Linked DNA regions of Homo sapiens. The protein of the gene in region 1 interacts with the protein of each later gene in a pairwise test. Each region holds a gene or a part of one and is shown in the gene's direction. Other genes may lie near its edges.

Region 1 (3,500 bases):
AACATATCCATAGATGTCTTCCATTATCTTTTTTCCTATACTTAAACTTCACTTTCCATTACCATAGCCTAAGTCTTGATATCTAGTAGGGCACACCCTTGCCTCCTTTGGTTGTTTTTTTGGTATTGCCTTAGCTAATCTTTTTTTTTTTTTTTCTGGAGACGTAGTCTCGCTCTGTCACCCACGATGGAGTGCAGTGGTGTGATCTCGGCTCACTGTAACCTCCGCCTCCCGGGTTCGCGCCATTCTCCTGCCTCAGCCTCCCGAGTAGCTGGGACTACAGGCGCCTGCCACCATGGCCGGGCTAATTTTATATTGTTAGTAGAGATGGGGTTTCACCATGTTAGCCAGGATGGTCTCGATCTGACCTCGTGATCCTCCCGCCTTGGCCTCCCAAAGTGCTGGGATTATAGGCGTGAGCCACTGCGCCTGGCCACACTGCCTTGGCTAATCTTAGATCGTTACTATTTCATGTGATATTTGGAGTCATTTTGGTCAGATATCATGTCCTGTTGAAATGTTTATTATAATTGCACAAAATAAATTTAACTTGGGGATAATTGATATCTTTATGTTATTGAGCCCTCCTATTTAGAAACATTGTCTGTTTCTCCATAGACCTTTCTAAGGTACTTCAATAAAGTTTTATAATGTTGTTCATTACATACATATCTTTTTTTAAGACTTAATGTACTGTATAGTTTTTGTAGCTATTGTGAATGGTCAGTTTTCGGTTGCTGATTGCTGACAAATAGAAGTGGTATTAATTATTCTCTGTTGACCTTGTATATGGCAATGCTGTGGAACTCCTGTCATTCCAACAGTGGATTGATAACTCTTGGATTTTCTATGTAGATTATTTTTATCATTCTCAAAGAATGATGATTTTGTCTTTTTTCTTCTGATCCTTGTAGCTTATATTTCTTTTTTCTGTAACTTACTGCTTTGGCTAGGATGTTGAATAGCAGCAGGGTGAGGGAACGTCCCTCTCTTGTCACTGAATCTACTACAAGTGCTTCTAATGTGTCCTCTTAGTGTTGCGAACACAAACTTGAATGCATGGAACCCCAGGGTCCCTGAGCCACACTCTGAGAACTACTGCTATGCTTCCCAGGGTCAAGTGATCCTCCCACCTCAGCCTCCCAAGTAGCTGGGACTACAGGCATGTGCCACCAATCCGTGCTAATTTTTTTTATTTTTTGTAGAGACAGGCTGAGCTTGAACTCCTGGGTTCAAGCCATCTTCCCGCCTTGGCCTCCCAAAGTATGGGGATTACAGGCATGAGCCAACCACACCTGGCCTTTTGCTCTTTTTTTTTAATCTATTTAAAATGGTTTTATTTTAACCTGGGAGCATAGATTCAAATTGCCCTAAATATACACTCTTTCCTTTTTTGTTCCTGATAACATTTCCTTTTCTACTTTTCCATCTATTTTCTTTTCTTTTTTTTTTTTTTTTTTTTTTTTTTTTTTTTTGAGATAGGCTTTGGTTCTGTCTCTGTCACCCCAGCTGGAGTGCAGTGGTACGATCTTGATTCACTGCAGCTTCTGCCTCCTGGGCTCAAGCGATCCTCCCACCTCAGCCTCCCAAGTAGCTGGGACTACAGGCACATGCCACCATGCCTGGCTAATTTTTGTATTTTTTGTAGAGAGGGGTTTTGCCATGTTGCACAGGCTGGTCTTGAACTCCTGGGCTCAAGAGATCCACCTGCCCTGGCCTCCCAAAGTGCTGGGATTACAGCCGTGAGCCACCGTGCCCGGCCCTCCTTGAGTTACTTTCTTATTCTGTATCTGATTTCTTTTCTTTTGTTTTTTGTTTTTTGTTTTTGGACAGAGTCTCACTCTGTCGCCCAGACTGGAATGTGCAGTGATGTAATCTCAACTCACTGCAACCTCCACCTCCCGAATTCAAGTGATCCTCCTGCCCCAGTCTCCCAAGTTACTGGGATTACAGGTTCACGCCACCATGCCCGGCTAAGTTTTGTTTTGTTTTGTTTTGTGTCGGAGTCTCACTCTGTGGCCAGGCTGGAGTGCAGTGGTGCGATCTCGGCTCACTGTAACCTCTGCCTCCCAGTTTCCAGTGATTCTCCTGCCTCAGCCTCCCGAGTAGCTGGGATTACAGGTGCCCACCACCATGCCCAGCTAATTTTTATATTTTTAGTAGAGACGGGGTTTCACCAAGTTGGCCAGGATGGTCTTGATCTCTTGACCTCGTGATCCACCCGCCTCAGCCTCCCAAAGTGCTGGGATTACAGGCGTGAGCCACTGCGCCCAGCCCCAAGTTGTGTATTTTTTAGGAGAGATGGGGTTTCACCATGTTGGCCAGGCTGGTCTCGAACTCCTGACCTCAAGTGATCCACCCGCCTCGGCCTCCCAAAGTGCTGGGATTATAGACGTGAGCCACAGCCTGCATTTGATTTCTTGCTGAATACTTATTTATTTCAGGCTTTCCTGTTAAAATGAGTCTATTAAGGATGCACAATTTTCTTTAGGTAGGCTTGGTTCTATTTCCACTTTAGTTTCCATTTCTATATGTCTCTGGGGAGAGGGTTACTTTTCATATATTTCTAATATAACAACAATATGGATAGAAATTGTTTTGCCAAATGATATATTCTTTTGGGATTTGTTGAAACTTTCTCTGTTGCTTTGTTTTTTTTGGTAATGTTCAGTATGTTGAAAACAATGTGTGTTCTCTATGTTTTAAGCATGAGATTGTTTACTTGACCCACTTGTTTCTGAGGGAAGTATGTTAAAAATCTCGACTGGTCATGGTGGCTCCTGCCTGTAATCCCAGCACTTTGGGAGGCCAAGGCGGGCAGATCACAAGGTCAGGAGATCAAGACCATCCTGGCCAGCACGGTGAAACTCCGTCTCTACTAAAAATACAAAAAAAATTAAACGCACCTGTGGTCCCAGCTACTTGGGAGGCTGAGGCAGGAGAATGGCGTGAACCCGGGAGGCAGAGCTTGCAGTGAGCCAAGATCGCGCCACTGTACTCTAGCCTGGGCGACAGAGTAAGACTCCGTCTAAAAAAAAAAAAACTCACTCCAGAGGAGGATTTACCAGTTCCTGTTTGGTAGATCCATACTGTTTGTAATTATTACAGCTTTTTGGTGGGCTTTTAGTAATATGCAGTGTTTTATTTTTATTTTTATTTATTTATTTATTTATTTATTTATTTGAGATGGAGTCTCGCTCTGTCGCCCAGGCTGGAGTGCAGTGGTGCGATCTCAGCTCACTGCAAGCTCTGCCTCCCGGTTCACACCATTCTCCTGCCTCAGCCTCCCAAGTAGCTGGGACTATAGGCCCCCGCCACCACGCCCGGCTAATTTTTTTTGTATTTTCGGTAGAGACAGGGTTTCACCGTCAGCCAGGATGGTCTCGATCTCCTGACCTCGCCATCCACCCGCCTCAGCCACCCGAAGTGTTGGGATTTCAGGGGTGAGCAACCACGCCTGGCCAGTAATATGCAGTGTTTTTTTTATTCCTATTAGTGAT
Region 2 (3,500 bases), on another chromosome or scaffold:
ACTGACAAGTCTGCTTTATATTTTATATGTAAAAAAGCAACATGGGTTTTTTAAAATGTGCGTTTTCCAGGGGTAGTTTTTGGTGACTGCTCTGCAGATTTTTAAGGCAATGTTAAACAACATTTTTATTTTTATTGTGAAACCTTTTTTTTATTGTTTATTCAAAGTGCTGCTGTAATTGGTGTTTGTATGTCTCTCTCTTAAGTGTGGTTTGCAGTGAATCACTTGTTGCCCCTTAAACAGTTAGCCTGGATTTAACCTCCAAGAGATTAAGTCTGGCAGAGTCTGAATTTTACACTGCTCTTTTCTTTGGAAGCTCTTCTGAAATCAGTGGAATAGAAATACAGGGGTACGAACAGCTCATCTGACAGGTAGGGAAGATTAATCCCCTTTAGAAAGGTTTCAGCTGGTGGACTGGCACTCCTTTAAAATGCATTCCCTGAGAGGCCAGGATGGGAAAAGTTATTAGTGAAATGGGAACTGGATGTGAAGGACTTGAGCTCCCTAATCTGCAGGACCTGGCTAGTCTGTTGTAGTGCTGGAAATTTGTGTACTCTTTGTAATCCTTTCCCTTGGAGAGTTCTAATTATATAATTCCACATTGTAGTCAGGGAAAAGAAAGTTAACGCTACAAACTGTTACTCCTTCCCAGGGTTTATAACCATCTTCTAAAATGGTTCCTTGATGACAGGCCTTTCCTTTTGGTGTTTATCTGGTTCATTCCCTGGGAACCTGGAGGGGACACTGTGAAGGACTCCCTCCTCCTCCTCTTCCACACCCCATCAGCGTCTTGTGGTTTCCACGTGGTGAAGGGCTGGGCAGCCCAATTTTGGGTTTACCTTGAGGTGCCTCCTTGGGGGCTCCTCGGGGCGGGCTCTTCCTTGCTCTTGCCCATTGGTTGTGACTCCATACATTGTCATTAGGATATTTCCTTTTTGGGAGCCCCGTGGTGACCACCAAGTGGAGAATACCAAGCATGTAAGGTTTCAAAGTAAAGAAACCAGGGGGCTTTGTTTTGCAGTGGAAGCATTGCTAGCTAGGTCTGGATTTTTATTGGTTGCACCCCAGCTGCATGGCCAATAGCAATTTCATGAAGGGACTGTTGGGTTGAAGGGACTGGCTTTGAAAACATTACTTCTCAGTGACCCTTTGGGCTCTTAGGTTCTGCTTTGCCCCACAACACCACCATAACACTGTTGAGGCTTTCAGTGGGTAGTGTGGGCTTCTTGAGTTTTGAAAGTAAAAATCCAAGCAACAAGAGGCGCTCCAGCCCATTAATTATAGCTGCAACTGGCCGGGGTTTTGTAGCAGCCGCCTTTTTCTAGCATGTATTTATTTGGTTTTGTTGAAGAGCTTGCCAAGTTGGAAACGAGGGCGGGACAGCTTTGCTTGCGTGTGCAGTTGTCATAAAATATGTCTGGGGTGTAATCTGTTTAAAATCATATTCGTAGAGTGGCCAAAGAATTGTTGAACAGTGTTGGGAATTTTCATAAAGCTTTTACAAAATAGGGAATTTTATTGGTGTGGTTGGCACTGTTTTTGGGATTTCTGTGGGTGTTTTCTTTTTAAGTCCTATCTCTGAAAAAAGCAAAAAACTCAAAAGCTAAAGGGAAGGAAATAATTACAGAAAAATGTAGCTTAATTCGACTAAGTAGCTTGGTCCTCTAGAAATCCTTAAGTTCTAGTGGGAAGTGGTGTGTATGTCTTTAATTGTCGCTGGAATGAGCTTCAGTAAGCACTCTGTCACTTTCTAGATGTTATCAGAGGAGAATGTGGCGGCTGCTTCAAGTCCTCCTGGAGTGGGGGAGGGTTCCCCTAAATCCCAAATACTCCTAGCCTAATGGTTTCCACACCCTCCTGGAGGGATAGTTAACACAATGGGCAGTTAAAATAAGGAAATGTTTAGGCCTGAACTCCTCATTGTAGGCTTGTGCTGTGGAATATAGTAGCCACCAGGCACACACAGCTATATAAGTTAAAATTAATTAAAATTAAAAGAAATTAAAGATTCACTTCCTCCCCTTCACTGGCTTCATTTCAGGTGTCAGTAGCCACAAATTGCTATGCAAAAATGTCACTGGGATTTTAGTAGAGGTTGCATTGAATTGGTAGATGGATCTGAGTAGTATTAACTTTTTTTTTTTTTTTTGAGTTAAGGTCTTGCTCTGTCACCCAGGCTGGAGTGCAGTGGTGCAAACACGGCTCACTACCTCTGGCCTTAACCTCCTGGGCTAAGCCTCTACCTCCTGGGCTCAAGTTATCCTCCCATCTTAGCCTCTGAAGTAGCTGGAACCACAGGCACGCGCTACCGTGCCTGGCTAATTCTTTGATTTTTTTTCGTAGAGATGGAGGTCCACTTGTGTTGCCCAGGCTGGTCTTGAACTCCTGGGCTGAAGGGATTCCCCACCCCCACCCCAGTCCTGGGATCGTAGGCATGAGCCACCTCACTGGCCATCATCTTAACAGTATTGTCTTCCTGTCCATAAACACAGGATGTCTTAACATTTATTTAGACCTTTCATTTCTTTCAGCAATGTTTTTTAGTTTTTAGTGTATGAGTCTTTTGCCTCTTAAGTTAAATCTATTCCTGAGTATTTTATTCTTTTCGAGCTGTTGTAATTGGAATTGTGTTTTTTAAATTTCCTTTTCACATTGCCCACTGTTAGTGCACAGAAATGTAACATTTTTGTGTGTTGATTTTCTAACCTGCAAGCTTGTGGAATTTGCTTATTAGCTCAAATAGCATTTTTGTAGCTCTTATTCTGTATGTAAAGTCGTATCATCTACAAATAGGCATAATTTTACTTCTTCCTTTACAATTTGGATGCCTTTTATTATTTTTGGTCTTGCCTAATTGCTCAGCCTGGAACTTCCAATACAGTCATGGGCCAAATAATGATGTTTTCAGACGATGGACCACCTATATGACAGTGGTCCCATAAGATAACACTACTGTATATGACTGTGCCTTTTATATGGTTAGATACACAAATGCTTCCCATCCTGTTACAGTTGCCTACAGTATTCAGTACAGCCACATGCTGTATAGGTTTGTTGTAGCCTAGGAGAAGTAGGCTACACCACATAGCCTAGGTGTGCAGTTTGTGTGAGGGACACTCTATGATGTTCATATGATGATGAAATTGCCCAGGGACACATTTCCCAGAATGTATCGTCATCGTTGAGCAACGCATGACTGTACTGTGTTGAATAGAAGAGGTGAAAATGGGCATTCTTGTCTTGTTCCTGATCTTGGAGGAAAAGCTTTCAGTCTTTTAACATTGAGTGTGATGTTTGCTGGGCTTGTCGTATATGGCTTTTACTATGTTGAGGTGGTTTCCTTTCTATTAGTTTATTCTCATTTTTTGGTATATTTTTGACTTTTAGAACATGCTAACATTCTACAAGTTCAAAAAATAAATCACTAAGAATAGCAGGAAACTAGAATTGAATACAAAGAAGCACATAAATGCAAATGTGTTGCAAATGAGTAACATGAC
Region 3 (3,160 bases), on another chromosome or scaffold:
GAGCTGATAGTGCACAGTGGTCTCAGCTCATTTTCATCCCAAGATACGCTGATCGTTATGCAAAATATGAAGGTCATACGTTAATTACAAGGGTTTGATTTCATCTGAAAATTATACGTCTGTAACAAAATATCATTAAATCAACATTTGGACAGGGTTTCTAATCCCTTCTCCTTAAAACAAAAAGCAACAATCTCTACAGGCAATGATACAGTCCTGATATGTCAGTGTGCTGAGCTGACATCCTAATATAAGGGCGATTATGCAACAGTAATAAAGATAGAAATATGTGCCTACCAACAGGAAGTTAACAGTGCACCCTTGAGAGGGTCCTTTCCATTATTTCATCCACAAGAATGGATAAAATTTCTCTGCGCAATTTAATTCAGTTTGGCTTTTCAACCAAAGCACGCCAAGCAGGCAGAGTGTTAGTGTAAGGATAACAGAAGCTGACATTTTCCAGCACTTCCTATGTGCCAGGCACTGGTCTAAGAGTTTCACACATTTAATGGTTGCAGAAACCTTATAATGAGGTTACTGTTATTAAGTTCCATTTTTAAGATGAAGGATCTGAGGCTCAGAGAGGTTAAGTGGCTTGTACAATTTGTGAGGGACAGAGTCAGGAATTGAACCCAGGCCCGTGTGGCTCCTAAGTCTCCACTATTAGGAAGACAGTATAGGTGAGAACAGGACCATCTGCCACTCAGAAGCATCCTACCTGGCTACCATGGACCTTTGTCATTCAGTCGTTGGTATTTATGTCTGAGTGAGCCCAAGCTTAGCAACCCCTGGACCACGTGCTTACATCACGTACCTGAGCAGTGCCATGTTCACAACACAGAGCCCAGCACATGGATGTCTGTTTTTACTTACTTCTAGGCTATTGTTACAGGTGAGGGTGTCCACACGATTTACATAGCGTGTGTCTATGTTTGTATCATTTTTCTAGGCAGAAGAAAATCAAGACAGCAGTGGTCATTTCAGCAACATACCTCCCTTGGAAAATCCAGAAGACTTTGATATAGTTACTGAAACCAGCTTCCCTATTCCAGGGCAGCCTTGCCCTTCCTTCCCAAAGTCTGATGTTTACAAAGCTACCTGTGACCTAGCCACCTTTCAAGGAGACAAAATGCCACCCTTCCAGAAATACTCAAGCCCAAGAATCTATTTGCCTAGGCCACCTTGCAGCTATGAATTGGCAAACCCTGGTTATACAAATTCAAGCCCATATCCCACCCTTTATAAGGATTCCACCAGTATCCCTAATGACACAGACTGGGTTCATCTGAACACACTACAATGTAATGTCAATTCATACAGCAGCTATGAGAGAAGCTTTGATTTCACCAACAAACAGCATGGCTGGAAACCAGCTCTTGGAAAACCCAGCCTTGTGGAAAGGACTAACCATGGGCAGTTTCAGGCCATGGCCACTCGCCCTTATTATAACCCAGAGCTTCCCTGCAGGTACCTCACGACTCCACCACCAGGTGCCCCTGCCCTACAAACCGTGATCACCACCACCACTAAAGTGTCCTACCAGGCCTACCAGCCCCCTGCTATGAAATACAGTGACAGTGTGCGAGAGGTGAAGAGCCTTTCGAGCTGTAACTATGCTCCTGAAGATACTGGGATGTCTGTCTATCCAGAACCCTGGGGTCCTCCGGTGACAGTCACCAGGGCAGCCTCTCCTTCAGGGCCACCTCCTATGAAAATTGCAGGAGATTGCCGGGCCATCAGACCCACTGTGGCTATTCCCCACGAGCCAGTTTCCTCTAGGACAGATGAAGCAGAGACTTGGGATGTGTGTCTGTCTGGGCTGGGCTCCGCAGTCAGTTACTCAGACAGAGTGGGTCCCTTCTTTACCTACAACAATGAGGATTTTTGAAAGACAATCCAGGGGACATAATAGCAGTGTGCATGCAGGCAGGAGGCAGGGAAATGTGAAATGGCAATGATCTCTTATTGAGTTGGGAGATTCACCTTGTGTGCAAAGAAACACAGATAGTAGTAAAAATTCTGAGTAACTGAGAAAATAATCAGTTGGAAATGATTAGATAATATGGGAAATTTCACACAGCATTTTGAAACTGGCTACAATACATAGAAGTAGTGAGGAAAGTGTGAGTCTCTCAAATGAACAAATAAGCAAACTGTAGGAGGTTAAATACTGACCTAAGTTCACTTAGCTTATTAGCAGGAGTAGAAGTCAAGGATTCTGGTTCTTATTCTAGGACTTTTCCCATTAGAGCACCTTAGGGAATTTCACATCCCTAGAGGCTGCCAAAATAGCTTCAGGAAGAAATTTTTACAATCTTATCACCTGAGTCATTTCATGAAATTTTTGTTTAGCATTTAGAACCTGTTAAACTAGCTTCAGGAAGTAATTTTGATTGTTTTATCTCCAACGTGTGTATCTACAGCTTTTCAAAAAATCTCTAGCAATGGTAAAGTTCAGTTGTTTTTAAAAGATTCAATATTAGCTTTTCATAACATGATAGTTTCCTAACCTTTTCATAACCTTTTCATAACATGATAGTTTCCATAACAGAGACAGCCTAACAATGATGAGTTGTATTTAATGGATTACCATTGTACTAAATACATTTTTTTTCTGATTAGGTTTCAGAATTATAATTAAAATGTTTTGCTGAAATACAGCTTTACGGTTCCTCTGTTATTCTTCATAAAGGTAATTGATAATGTTCAATTAAATGTAATAAGGACATTTTAAATGAAGCTAATTCTTGCCTGACTTCAAAACAGAAATAGGAAAAAAATTGTTCATATTATGACCTGGGAAACAGTTGTTATGAAACATTAAAACTTATTAAATTGGCTGAGAGAGGTGGCTCACGCCTGTAATCCCAACACTTTGGGAGACCAAGGCAGGAGGATTGCTTGAGCCCAGGAGTTTGAGACCAGCCTGGGCAACAGGGAGAGCCCTCATCTCTGGGCAACAGAGAGAGACCCCAGGGCATGGCAGTGGGCCTGTGGTTCTAACTACTTGGGAAGCTGAGGTGGGAGGATCATTTGAACCCACGAGGTCAAGGCTGCAGTCAGCCATCTTTGTGCTACTGCACTCCAGCTTGGGCAACAGAGCAAGACCCTGTCTCAAAAAAATAAATAAATAAATAAATAAATAAAACAAGTATTAAAT
Region 4 (3,500 bases), on another chromosome or scaffold:
TTGAGGCAAGGATGCCTTTCTGTGCAAGTGTAGACTCAAGTATCTGACATCTGCACCTCAGTTGGGGCAGAGCACGTGAGTCTTTCACCCAAGAGTCCCAGGGAGTGGAGGGCACAGAAGAGCCACTGGGGGACCTGAGCCACAGCTCCCACTAGCTCTGCCTCTTCCCTGGGGAAAGCAGCTGACACACAGGAGGCTTGCCTCTGTCCAGCTGGCCTGTCCTCTGTGCCTCTGGCAATGTCCTGTGCTTGGGGCACACTGAGCAAGGGGCACCTTCTGACTGGACACAGATATAGAAGCTACATCGCTTGTGAGCCTGCAACAGCCTGGGCCTCCCTCAATGTCAATGTCTGTGTTTTAAACCTGGGAGATTTTTCACTGTGCTGGAACGAAATACCATGTTCCCCTTGTCTTAACCAGGCATGGGCAAGGCACCTATTTATACGCGGAGACGGGCAGTAAGTATGTTGGCACCTGGGTGAACGGACAGCAGGAGGGCACGGCCGAGCTCATTCACCTGAACCACAGGTACCAGGGCAAGTTCTTGAACAAAAATGTAAGTCCATGGGAAGTGACATTTGCCAATGAAGTACAAAATAACCCCCTCTGGCAGCCTGTGCAAATGTGTGACCAGAGAATACCAAAAACTCAGAGAAAACTGAGTCCGGCCTATTCAAATGTGGAGAACAGGACAGCTGTGCCATTCTCTGAGCCTCTGGTACCCACAGAGCACAGAATTGGGGGAAGGGAGGGATTGGCCCGTTTCTCTGGATCTCAGTACAAATTCCCACTGTCTTTCAGCGGGGACCTGTTGCATTGTTATATAACACGAGAGGGCATCTGAACCTCTTGTGTGTATTCCTTCTCATGGGTAAATCAGATACCAAATATCTATTTCCTGCAATTGAGCATAGAGGTGTTTGGGTTTTGTTTCCCTGGAAGGGGAGGTGCGACATCCCTGGGGAGGAAGACCCCCAGCTCCCTCCTCATGCTACAGGCCAGCCTGCGTGCTCCTAGTTGTGGTGGGAATTAAGGCTGCCAAGGGCCTGGCCCTGCGTCTGGAGGCTTGCCAGCTTCTAGCACCCATGGTGGGCCGTTTCTGTTTGGAAGACTCGGTGGTTCCTCTTGCCCTTATTGTACAGAGAAACCTTGAATAATTCAGAAGCTAATACTCAGGCCATCGTGGTAGCTTTGATCAGGGGTTGAGCAGAAACTTTCCCTGAAGAGAGAATTTGCGGAGCAAATTGATGGTGTTAGAAGTTGACAGAGGGAATGTTTAGCTGATACAACGAAGTCTCTTCAGACTCTCTTAGAACCCAGTTTTCATTTACGTATAATTCATGCCCTAACCACAGATTTTACTTTTAGTCTTCATCAAAACAGCACATTCCCCTCAAACCCATACATTGTTTATATAATTCCCAGCAAACTTTCTGTGGGTCTTTTTGGAGGAGATGGGAAGGTGGTTGCAGAGGAAGAGAATTTGATGAAAATGAATCTGGAAGAATCAATCAGCTTGTCCAGCCTAAACCAGTCTGAAAAATCGGGGTAAAAATGGAGGCTTTGTTTTGCTAGTTAGTAAAAAACTTTAAATTATACAAATAATACACAAGTACATTCCAATTGTAAAGCATTTAAACACTAGGATCCTGCCCCACCACCCTGGGCCCAATCCTTCCACACTATTTCTGTGTGTCATGTAAGCACATTCTAATACAGTCATCTGACACAGAATTATTGTTTGGGGGTTTTAATTACATAATTAGGATCATACTGTGTCAGGATACAAAAATATACATAAAGATACATATTTGTCATTTTGCACATTTGGGACTATTGTGTAGGTTAGATAATGGAATTGTGAAACCTTTGAGGATTGGCATTTAGAATCACAATCGGTAGTGCCCATTTTCCTAAAAAGTGGTGTCAGTTTATACTCTTGCCAATAGAATATGAGTCTGTTTATCATATATTCTCATCGATGTTGGATATTCTCAGTCTTTAATGTTGTTTTTGTTCTTTTCCAATCTTATGGGTAAAAAATGTCATCTCATTGTTTTAATGTGTACTTCCCTGATTACTAGTGAGGTCAAACATCTTGTCACATGTTTATTGCTGGTTTGTGTTTCTTCCTCAGAAAATTCCCTGTACATGTCCTTGTGGACAAGTTATCAATACCACAAAACTTCAATAATTAAAACAGTGTGATACCAGGATACACACACACACACACACCAATGAAGCAAATTAGGAAGTCCAGAGACAGTTCCCAGTATATAAAATAATTTCACACACAATAAGCGTGTCAAATTAACAAAGGGATGATGGGAGGAGTCAAGACATAGTGCTAGGAACACTTGACAATTATTTGGGAGGAAAATAATAGTTTTGCCTTCACACAGATGAAGATACTTTCTAGAAGAAGTAAAGATTTAAATGTACCCTAGGAAATATAGAAAAAAAATGTAGATGAATATTAACCTTGAAATGAGGAAAGAGAACTTTCTAAACAGAAATAGAAAGGAAAAACCAATAGGTTTAGCTTTATAAAAATAACTTCTTATAGATTAGAAAATGCTGTAAAGAAAATCTAAGAGATGACTGTTAAATGGGGAGAGAATATTTGCAACATTTAATATATAAAGTGTTTTATCAATCAATGTGATTTAAATGGCTAAAAATCTTGAAAAAAATGCAGGCTTACTAACAACTGAAATGAAGTGAATTAAAATTGTGAGACCCTGTTGTTTTATATAAAAAAACATGTAAAAATAGACCATTTTTACACTCCTAAAATCAAGAGTTTGAGGATCTGGGACTCTTAAGTGCAGTTATGGGAATGAAACGATTAGAGCCTCATCTAATCAAAGCACATGTATGCTTTTGTCCAGAAATTCTGAGAATTTAAGGATGGTATCAAAAGCGTACATAAAGTTTTAACTCAGAGTACGTTTGCTGGAGCGTTCTTTGTAAAAAAAAAAAAAAAATCAGTATCCCAAATACCAACAATAGTAACTGAGTAAAATAGGTTGCAATCCATAGATGAAATAAAGTACCAGGTGGCAACTGTTATTAGGAAAGAATATTTGTAAATACGGGAAGTAGTTCATGCCATATTTCTCAGTAAAAATAGAGTATGAGTTAGTATGTATAATTATGATCAGATTTTTATTTAACCATGTATACTAGAAGCAAAGTTACAAAGAATGCATCAAAATATTAGTAGTAGTTCCATCGGTAGCTAGTTTGCCTATGGATACTGATTCACTGAGGTTTTCTGAAAATGAATACATCACTTTTATAAAAAAGTAAAATGTGGTTAAAGTTTCCAAAAGTAAACAAAACAGGGCATATAAGTTCCAATCCCATCAGCCACGAGTTCACAAAAGCATTCCTTAATCCATGTTACACTTTACCCAATTTGGTGATTTGAGGTGGGTATTGTGGTGGTGACATTTGTATTTTGTATTTTCTGCTGGGTGTTGACACTTAAGAATGGT
Region 5 (2,517 bases), on another chromosome or scaffold:
TAAATAATCATTTGAGTTCTTTCAGAGAGTACTTAATCTTTTAAAAGACAGGGTAAAGTGGAGTATTCAGAGGACTTTACCTAGTTTTTCAGGAACTGGTTTTTTTTGGCTAGCAAGACTGTGATAAATACGCTTTGAGCTCTTCAGAGGAAAGATTTCAGTAACATTTGGTCATGTTTGGTAATAACAATGGTAATGTTTTGTTGTTTTATCCAAATAAATTTAAAACTTTGTTTTCAATTATTCTTTCCAGAAGGCTTATCAGGTTGGTCGCAATCTGTGATGGGGAACCATCCAATGCATCAACAATTATCAGACCCAAGCACATTCTCCCAACATCAGCCAATGGAGAGAGATGATTCTGGAATGGTAGCCCCCTCTAACATTTTTCATCAGCCTATGGCAAGTGGTTTTGTGGATTTTTCTAAAGTGAGTTGACAAACATCACTGTAACTTGATTGACACTTTGTCAGCCAATGTAGTCACATTAAGGAATACCTTGTATTGAAATAATGCTCCCTTTTGTTTCTGTGGCTTTGCTAGATCTTTTGCTTAATTTCAGGAGTGCACAGAGTTGTCCACAGTAGTTTGTCCTGAAGATGTCCCCATCCCCCGAAAACACCTGAGGGATTTGGGTTTTGCCACTTTGTGCTCTGCTACTACAGCTTTGAGGGAGGCCTCTACCCCTCTTAAAAGCTGGCCATGAGTTCACTGATGCTTTCTTGTCTGCTCTGACAGCTTTATGTCGGCAATCAATTATGTAGAGTTCCCATTTTCTTCTTAGCTCAAGCTTATTCATGAAACTAAAATATGGGAAAGTTGAGGTTATTTTTATCAAATATGAGAAATTTCCTGATGATTTCATATTGGATTTAGTTTCTTTCTCTCTCTTGTTTTTTGTTGAAAAGCTTTGCAGATGCAGATAAACATTTTGTTTTCTCAACACTGCCATACTGTACTTATAGGATCTTTTGGAGTTCTTTAAATGAGGAATATTAGAGAAGTCTAAGCTGGTATTATGGGATTTATAGTAATTTTATAATTTATAGTAATTTTAAGATTAAATCTTTTTTCCTGCTGTTTTAGGGTCTGCCAATTTCCATGTATGGAGGCACCATAATACCCTCTCATCCTCAGCTTGCTGATGTTCCAGGAGGCCCTCTGTTTAATGGACTTCACAATCCAGATCCTGCTTGGAACCCTATGATAAAAGTTATCCAAAATTCAACTGAATGCACTGATGCCCAGCAGGTAAAATGGGCTTAATGCTCTTTTGTTTTTTAGATTTGTCACATCATTCTTTTTGTTTTGTGAGAAGTATAAGTACTGAATATCAAAAGTCATAATTGACCATTTCGATCTGGATTGCTTTTTCAATATCAAGATGATGCTACTGAACACTTTATTTAATATATGTGTATTCTTCCTAGGCAGAAACAGTGAATTGCCATTGCATTTATATATTCATTTTGTAACTGTCTAAAGATTCCTAATTAGAAATTCCAATTTTTCCTCCCCCTTTTCAGATTTGGCCTGGCACGTGGGCACCTCATATTGGAAACATGCATCTCAAATATGTCAACTAAGTTAGAAGGTCTTTACTCTTTAGCCTTGTTTAAGAAACCTATGACCTTGGAAGAACCATGGGGATTTTTTTTTAATGTGCCTAAGAAATTTTCTCTGAGGCTTTAGCAATGGAAATTTGATTGCCCATTGTATAAGAACAAATTGATTTCCTATCCACCTGATTATGTTCTCTGGTTAGTTTAGCCATTTTGAACTTAAGATCATATGACCTTAGTGCTTTTGGCTAAACATACAGAATACTACTTGTATGCAGAAGAGAATTAGTTGATTACATGTTTCAACCTTTTAGGGTGATAAATACATGTATAATTGTTTACATACTTAAAAGGAAAAAGTTGAGTAAATTTCTTGTCATATAGTGGCTCTACGTAATGTAGCCTGTATTAATGTGAAATATTTACCAGAATATTCAATAAAAAGATGAACAGTCTTTAGAAGTGGGGTGTGATCCTTTCAGTGGTCATGCAGGTACCACTCAATCCACATTATATTGAACCAGATGGTTAATACTATATTTGTAACAGGCTTCTCACATTTAACACTTGAGTCCCTTCTTAGACTGCCTTAAAAAAGCACTTTTAAGACTATTTACCTATTTATTCTGTGTTAAACATTCCTTGTTCCCTTGTTGTCTTCCATAATCCTTTAACATATGAGAAAGTTTCAAGCTCTGGCAATGTGTCTTATCTGACTTTAGCTAGCAGATAGGCCACTGATAGGTTTTTTCTCTATGGATCATGAGAATGTCAATAAGAACAATTGGATTTAAATCAGATGACACTAAACAAATGTAGGGACACCCAAATTATCAACTTCAGGTTCCTTCTGTGCTTCCTGACCTTTTTTATCTGAAAGATTTGTCTGGTTATAGATATTTTAAGCTTTATATGAGTTGGGACATAAGGAGGTGACTCCTGTCATTCTGTTGTA
Region 6 (3,500 bases), on another chromosome or scaffold:
CCCAAAGTGCTGGGATTACAGGCATGAGCCACCACACCCAGCCCAGCATCCCCTTTTTATCCCAGTTGTTCATTGACTGCTTTTTTCCCAAAGGGGAGAGGGAGGGAAGGTGGGGTTACTTGTAGCTCTCCTCCAACAAGATCTAAATCAGGCAGGCAGCCCCAGCAGCCTGGTGGGGTGGTCTTGGGAGAACAGGTAAGGTTAGTGTGTGTCTTTCAGGCTACCCAGTGTGTTGGTAGGATTTCCCCTTCCTAGCTCAGTAATTGGAAGGATGGGTTTAAAGTGGTGATTGCACATCACTTTGTTAGAGGGGATTGGTAGTGTTGGGGTAGGTAGGCTGCCTGGTTAGGCGGCCTTCACTGCCCCTGAACGAAGCCACACATGAGCTGGGTTTTACTGGTCTCTGAGCCCCTTTGTGCTGGTGCAGGACTGAGCCTGGCGCTTGGATGCCTGGTGGCCTCCTCCAGCCGGCCCCAGGCTCCACCAGTGAATGGCAGCGTCAACGTCTCATTTAAATAATGGTAGTACAGGGAATAGCTTTTAAATGGTTATCGTAAAACATATGATTAACGTCTGTGGACTGTTTACTTTTCCTCTGCGAACATTCTTTCAAGTGTGCAAATGGCTCGATGTAGGGTCCAAGCCCAGCTAATCTGTTTGGTTTTTGTAATAGAGAGAAAGCAATGTCTGCATGAAAATGTCACCCAGGGAGACTTAATTTACAGATTAAAAGCTTCCTGAATGAATTTTTTAAAAAATGAAGTCGTTTTCGTCCACGAACATGCAGCCCGTTCCCTCCATTACTCTGTTTTAATTCTGTGGTATTGTGCCTTTTGCCTCCCACTTCAATGGCATACATCAATTCCTCTCTGTCAGAGTGGACTACAGGATGTGCTCCTGTGGAACTGGCAGATGTGCGGTGGCACGTACTTGCAGAATCCGCTCATGTGTGCCTTGTGAAGCTCTTAGCCCCTGCGACGCACGCGGTGCCCATTCAGCAGGTGGGCTTAATCCCCACAGACGACTCTGTCCTCTAGCGGATGAAGTTCCAGAATGGAGTACACAAGCCTCCAACACCTCCTTGTCTGTTCAGCTCTGACTCTGCCTTAGATAAGATGCCAGATGGCATTTGATCAGTTTCTCCAGCTCATCCAAATAGAGGCAGAGACATTTTAGAGGAGTCACCATTTTTGAAAAAAGGCAAGGGTAGTAACTTTTCAAATGCCACAGCTCAAAAAGTGTGTTAGAAATCAGAGGAGTAGCTCTTGTGCAGGTAAGGCATGAAACTCCGCAGGGTGAAGGGCCAGAGTTGTAAGAGCAACAGGGATTACCATTGCTTCATTCTCCACCAGGTGCTGAGCCTTTTTGATGTTGTTTCTTTTAAACTTGAAACAATCACACCAGTCACATGAGGCACAAATACCCAAGATGGCATATCTTGAGTCTACTCAGTATACCAGTCCATTTAGAAGGAGATAAACTAATTTTTCAAACTGAGGCTGAGGGAAAATGAGATGAAACCTACCAACAACTCAGGATTTATAATCATGAATGAACCTTGTGCTAGGATTCCAGAAGAGATGCGTCTCTTCCTCCTTTCCCTGTTCCCATCCCCTAATGGATTGCTCTTTCCTTCTCTCCCTCCTTTGTACCTAAAATGCTGCTTCTTCCCTCAGGAATCCCACGGCCTCCGCACCCTCCAGATATATCCCCGTATTACCCACTATCGCCTGGCACCGTAGGACAAATCCCCCATCCGCTAGGATGGTTAGTACCACAGTAAGGAGTTCCATTTTTTAATTTCCTTTTTGTTTCTTACATGGGCATGTTTATTATTTATTCTGTGTGTGTGTCTGTGTGTGTGTGTGTGTGTGTGTGTGTGTGTGTGTGTATGTGTGTGTGTTAGAAGCCAGGGTTGGGGAGGGGGCTGCGGGAGGGCACAGAAAAGGTGTTGCTGAGGTGTCCTGTGGGAATACAGGCAAATCCACAGCCATTCAGGTGGCTTATGTTACTGGCACTTAGCATTCCGCGACCATGGTCCCCAGAGGCTCTGTGGACAGAGGTGCCCTGCAGTTCCTTTGGGAATTGCAGAAGACTACTGGAACTTCCACCCAATGAAGCTGGTCATGACCCTTCTGCTGTTGGCTGCCCAAACTGCAGTCATGTCATTGGGTTGAGGCTGTCGAGTCCTCCATTTTAGGTGTTACATATTTTGGGGCACAGAAGCAGGAACAAGAACGGCCTTGTTTTGAAATCCAGGGTTGGGATTAGGGCATGTTCTTGTATGATTCCAGGACCCCCCACCTCATCCTGAACATTACTCCCAAGGTTGACAACAACAGTGGAAAGTTTTGTCTGTTGAGAAGCTCCATGGGACTGAATCAGCATCTCTCTGAGAGTCTTTGCACGTTGAATGTTTTACCTAACTGTGAACGGTGGGAATGGGGCATTTGGAACCGTCACTGCAGCATGTGGGGCCTTCGTAAGCATCAATCCTAGCTCCTGGCAGTGCCCAGATTATTTGACTAACTTTTGCAACTTAAAAAAACTGTGTTTTAAATTCAGAGTAGAAAGGCCTTTGATGCATTAGCATACTGTGGCAGGTTGTGTGTATGTATATTTTTGCATGAGCATGTGTGTAATATGTGTTTCGTGATTGTTTCTGTGGATGTATTTCTCCTTACCAGTGATCTGTACTCTGAACAACACAGGACAATACATTGAATGCTAAAAGGAATAAATCCTGGTAAAACTCAGGTTTGAGTCTTAGGGAAGATGGCCTTTCAAAGCCTTAAGGAAGATAAAATTTTGGAGTGGCTTACCCCACAATTCTACCCGTATTTCTCTAGTTAGATAGATTCTATGCTGTTTTTTTTTTTTTTAATAAAAAACAGATTGCATTATGTAGTAGCTGTACCAAATACCAACCCTGGGTATAGTTTCTGTTTCTCTGTCTCTTCTTATTTTTATTGGGACGGTAGACATGAACATGAGCTTGTGACCCATTTCTTCTAAATAGATGGGGCCAACCCTCGAATAGTTCTCAGTGATCATTTGCCCCATTCGGCTGATGGGGAGATATTTGAAGGCTAGATAAAAAGGAATAGCCAACTCAGACAACCCTCTGTCAGAAAAAGTTGTGTGTCTTTCATGAGGATGCTATTTTGCATGTTGCTGTATTTTTTAATTATTGTAATGAGGTGTGATTGTCTATTGGTTACCCACAATTCTTCTTGGGGACTCTCCCCCCGGTAACTCTTGTCAACACTTGTTAATTTGACAAAAGGCTACAAATTAAGCTCTGTTAATTTAATGTTTTCTCACCGAGATCTAAATACCGAAAGAGGCCCAAAGCGCAACTGAAGTCCTTTGATTCACTGTACTTTATTTTGGTATAAATTTACATTCATTATTGTTTTCCTTTGGATGTGTAGCCCTCAATTAGTGTGATGGCTCCATTAAAGCAAGCGAGACTTCGCCTTTAATTATTACAACAAAAC
Region 7 (3,500 bases), on another chromosome or scaffold:
TCCCTGTGGGGGGGACTGTCCCCTTGCCTGCCGTCCTTGAAGGCACCTGCGGCCAGTGACTCGAGGAGCAAGTCCTGTGCACAGACCGCCCCCCTGATTCGCTCACCCCCCCAGTCTGGGCCTGTTGGCCAGGGCAGCACCCGAGGGAAAGGCTGCAGCAAAGGAGCCAGCATCATGGAAACTGTTTTGAGGGAGAATAAGCTCAGATTAATCTCATGTTTGTGGAACACTGATAGCATCCCACTTGTCTTCTTATACCCCCAGAATCTCAAATTTATATTACGGGGAAACAGCAGTTAGTGCATTTTAAAAGATGATTCTGGGGCCAGGCGCTGTGGCTCATGCCTGTAATTCCAGCACTTTGGGAGGCCGAGGCGGGTGGATCACCTGAGGTTGGGAGTTCGAGACCAGCCTGGCAAAGATGATGAAATCCTGTCTCTACTAAAAATACAAAAATTAACCGGGTGTGGTGGTGGGTGTCTGTAATCCCAGCTACTTGGGAGGCTGAGGCATGAGAATCGCTTGAACCTGGGAGGCGGAGGTTGCAGTGAGCTGAGATCGTGCCACTGCACTGCAGCCTGGGCGACAAAGTGAGACTTCGTCCCAAAAAAAAAAGGGGGGGGTTCTGGAATTGTCTGCTCACAAGTGGAGAAGTCAACAGGAAGAAAATTAGAAAATAAATTGGATTTCTGAAGCCCTCAGTATTCTAGGATGGGAGCAGGAGGCAGGAAGTGGTGGCCGGGTCATTGGTTCATTAGTCCACCAGTGTTGGCTGGTGTTGGGGCACTGCCCCCAGGGAGAGCTGCTTGTGGTCACCCCTCCAGTGAAGCAGGCCTGTTTCATTGTCTGGGATCCCACAGTCTCCCTCATTGCCTCAGCTACTTTCCCACCTGGTGTCCCCGACTGGGTGCTGTTATCCTTCATAGTGTAGCCTTTGATGCCAACATGAAAGGTCAATGTGGCAGGGATGAGGTTGTGAGATGAGGTCTGGAGCATATTCTCTTTATGTAGAACCTTCTGGTTACTTGGGGGACTGGGGGGCGGGGAGCGGGAAAACTAAAAATCCAAAAACGGGCGTCACAGACTGGAGAGCCCCGTGTTTTACTTCCGGCTCTGTTTTCTGTAATAGCATCTTGGCACTCTCAGACGATGCGTCTAGGTGGGAGCCTTCTTACCTCACACTGGACCCCGTCTCACCGGCCTGTGTACAGGTGTGTGTGCGCACACACATACAGACACACCTCACACGAAAGTCATTTTAAGGCAGTGTTGGAGGGACCCAATCATGACCAGACCCTTAGTTGAGTCTCTCCAAGGAGATGCCGTCCCAGAACTGCTGACCCTCAGTCTAAATTTGTGCCCTGGGCAGCTCTTCAGAGACCCCTACGATGGGGCACTCAGGCACTCACCTTCTCTAGCAGACCTTTTTGCCTCATGGTTCCGTCACTTTAAAACCACTCTCTGAGGTTCCAGTCACTACACAGACATGTTTTCATAAGGAAGCCCAGGTGAGTTGGCATCCAGAGTGAGGGCTGCTCTGCACCCGGAGCACAGAGTCCACACTTCGGATGCTTTCTCTTGGCTGAGGAGCTGGAGCCAGCCAGGGCCCTCTGTGCAGGGGCCTACTGCAAGAGCCCAACGCTGTGCCCAGGAAATCATGGGAATGTGAACCCCCTTGGACTTAGAGGCAGGGGCCATCTGCTAGGAAGGGTGTGTGGAAGGAGCCTCTGAAGCACCCTTGAAGGATTCTGGGAGAGCTTTGGTCCAGGTATGGGAGAGTGTCCCAGGAGGAATGTCAAGGCCCAGAGGTGGGCGCCCAGGGCCTGCTGAGTAATCAGCGAGCTTGGGGTCTGTTCTCTGGAGCAAACTGCCTCACGGCCCTGCACATCCTGGTTTGCCAATGGAAATATCTCTGCCTTACAAAGCTGTTTCAGTTCCCATGATGCCGTCCGTGTCTGTCATAAGCGTTGTCGTCAGCAGGCAGGGGTTTACTCCTCTACCTCTGGATTCCTTTGCAGGTAAGAGTAGAGGGGGCTGCTACCTTGCCAGTTCTAGAGAGGCATAGCTTCGTCATTTAGCCTGAATTCAGAGCCTTGCCAATGATGCTTCGTATTTTGAGACGGCACCCTGGTTTGTGTTCGTTATTAATTTCTCTGTCTTGATTTGGTTCTCACATTGGCGACTACAGCTTTCTTTCTGGAAGGAGTAGCCCCATGCTGTGCAGGTTTTGTTTTTGCTCCACCTGTGCTTAAGCAAGAGGCGGTTGGCATTCTCAGCATCTCGTGTTGTAGAAGTGGTGTAACTTGTCACGTTTGCTTTTGCAGAGTAACAGTTACCCCTCAATGAGCGACCCCTACCTGTCCAGCTATTACCCGCCGTCCATTGGATTTCCTTACTCCCTCAATGAGGCTCCGTGGTCTACTGCAGGGGACCCTCCGATTCCATACCTCACCACCTACGGACAGCTCAGTAACGGAGACCATCATTTTATGCACGATGCTGTTTTTGGGCAGCCTGGGGGCCTGGGGAACAACATCTATCAGCACAGGTTCAATTTTTTCCCTGAAAACCCTGCGTTCTCAGCATGGGGGACAAGTGGGTCTCAAGGTCAGCAGACCCAGAGCTCCGCGTATGGGAGCAGCTACACCTACCCCCCGAGCTCCCTGGGTGGCACGGTGGTTGATGGGCAGCCAGGCTTTCACAGCGACACCCTCAGCAAGGCCCCCGGGATGAACAGCCTGGAGCAGGGCATGGTTGGCCTGAAGATTGGGGACGTCAGCTCCTCCGCCGTCAAGACGGTGGGCTCTGTCGTCAGCAGCGTGGCACTGACTGGTGTCCTTTCTGGCAACGGTGGGACAAATGTGAACATGCCAGTTTCAAAGCCGACCTCGTGGGCTGCCATTGCCAGCAAGCCTGCAAAACCACAGCCTAAAATGAAAACAAAGAGCGGGCCTGTCATGGGGGGTGGGCTGCCCCCTCCACCCATAAAGCATAACATGGACATTGGCACCTGGGATAACAAGGGGCCTGTGCCGAAGGCCCCAGTCCCCCAGCAGGCACCCTCTCCACAGGCTGCCCCACAGCCCCAGCAGGTGGCTCAGCCTCTCCCAGCACAGCCCCCAGCTTTGGCTCAACCGCAGTATCAGAGCCCTCAGCAGCCACCCCAGACCCGCTGGGTTGCCCCACGCAACAGAAACGCGGCGTTTGGGCAGAGCGGAGGGGCTGGCAGCGATAGCAACTCTCCTGGAAACGTCCAGCCTAATTCTGCCCCCAGCGTCGAATCCCACCCCGTCCTTGAAAAACTGAAGGCTGCTCACAGCTACAACCCGAAAGAGTTTGAGTGGAATCTGAAAAGCGGGCGTGTGTTCATCATCAAGAGCTACTCTGAGGACGACATCCACCGCTCCATTAAGTACTCCATCTGGTGTAGCACAGAGCACGGCAACAAGCGCCTGGACAGCGCCTTCCGCTGCATGAGCAGCAAGGGGCCCGTCTACCTG

The links.
Region 2: the proteins of ZNF34 (region 1) and ROR2 interact in a two-hybrid assay, tested with the Homo sapiens proteins (one large-scale study listed by BioGRID).
Region 3: the proteins of ZNF34 (region 1) and GCM2 interact in a two-hybrid assay, tested with the Homo sapiens proteins (one large-scale study listed by BioGRID).
Region 4: the proteins of ZNF34 (region 1) and RSPH1 interact in a two-hybrid assay, tested with the Homo sapiens proteins (one large-scale study listed by BioGRID and IntAct).
Region 5: the proteins of ZNF34 (region 1) and ANKHD1 interact in a two-hybrid assay, tested with the Homo sapiens proteins (one large-scale study listed by BioGRID).
Region 6: the proteins of ZNF34 (region 1) and TCF7L2 interact in a two-hybrid assay, tested with the Homo sapiens proteins (one large-scale study listed by BioGRID).
Region 7: the proteins of ZNF34 (region 1) and YTHDF1 interact in a two-hybrid assay, tested with the Homo sapiens proteins (one large-scale study listed by BioGRID).

Annotation. Positions count from the first base shown.
Region 1 is NC_000008.11:144,780,818-144,784,317, reverse strand, and holds part of ZNF34 (zinc finger protein 34), read left to right. Parts: intron 1-2,444; exon of another isoform or gene 2,445-2,491; intron 2,492-3,352; exon of another isoform or gene 3,353-3,443; intron 3,444-3,500. UniProt on the Homo sapiens protein: May be involved in transcriptional regulation.
Region 2 is NC_000009.12:91,943,729-91,947,228, reverse strand, and holds part of ROR2 (tyrosine-protein kinase transmembrane receptor ROR2 isoform 1 precursor), read left to right. Parts: intron 1-3,500. UniProt on the Homo sapiens protein: Tyrosine-protein kinase receptor which may be involved in the early formation of the chondrocytes. It seems to be required for cartilage and growth plate development. Phosphorylates YWHAB, leading to induction of osteogenesis and bone formation.
Region 3 is NC_000006.12:10,872,723-10,875,882, reverse strand, and holds the end of GCM2 (chorion-specific transcription factor GCMb), read left to right. Parts: intron 1-949; coding exon 950-1,888; 3' UTR 1,889-2,660; downstream 2,661-3,160. UniProt on the Homo sapiens protein: Transcription factor that binds specific sequences on gene promoters and activate their transcription. Through the regulation of gene transcription, may play a role in parathyroid gland development.
Region 4 is NC_000021.9:42,482,725-42,486,224, reverse strand, and holds part of RSPH1 (radial spoke head 1 homolog), read left to right. Parts: intron 1-420; coding exon 421-556; intron 557-3,500.
Region 5 is NC_000005.10:140,537,833-140,540,349, forward strand, and holds the end of ANKHD1 (ankyrin repeat and KH domain-containing protein 1), read left to right. Parts: intron 1-253; coding exon 254-429; intron 430-1,086; coding exon 1,087-1,251; intron 1,252-1,526; coding exon 1,527-1,586; 3' UTR 1,587-2,017; downstream 2,018-2,517. Other genes in the region: ANKHD1-EIF4EBP3 protein, read left to right, coding at 254-429, 1,087-1,251. UniProt on the Homo sapiens protein: May play a role as a scaffolding protein that may be associated with the abnormal phenotype of leukemia cells. Isoform 2 may possess an antiapoptotic effect and protect cells during normal cell survival through its regulation of caspases.
Region 6 is NC_000010.11:113,142,247-113,145,746, forward strand, and holds part of TCF7L2 (transcription factor 7-like 2), read left to right. Parts: intron 1-1,676; coding exon 1,677-1,779; intron 1,780-3,500. UniProt on the Homo sapiens protein: Participates in the Wnt signaling pathway and modulates MYC expression by binding to its promoter in a sequence-specific manner. Acts as a repressor in the absence of CTNNB1, and as activator in its presence.
Region 7 is NC_000020.11:63,202,632-63,206,131, reverse strand, and holds part of YTHDF1 (YTH domain-containing family protein 1), read left to right. Parts: intron 1-2,324; coding exon 2,325-3,500.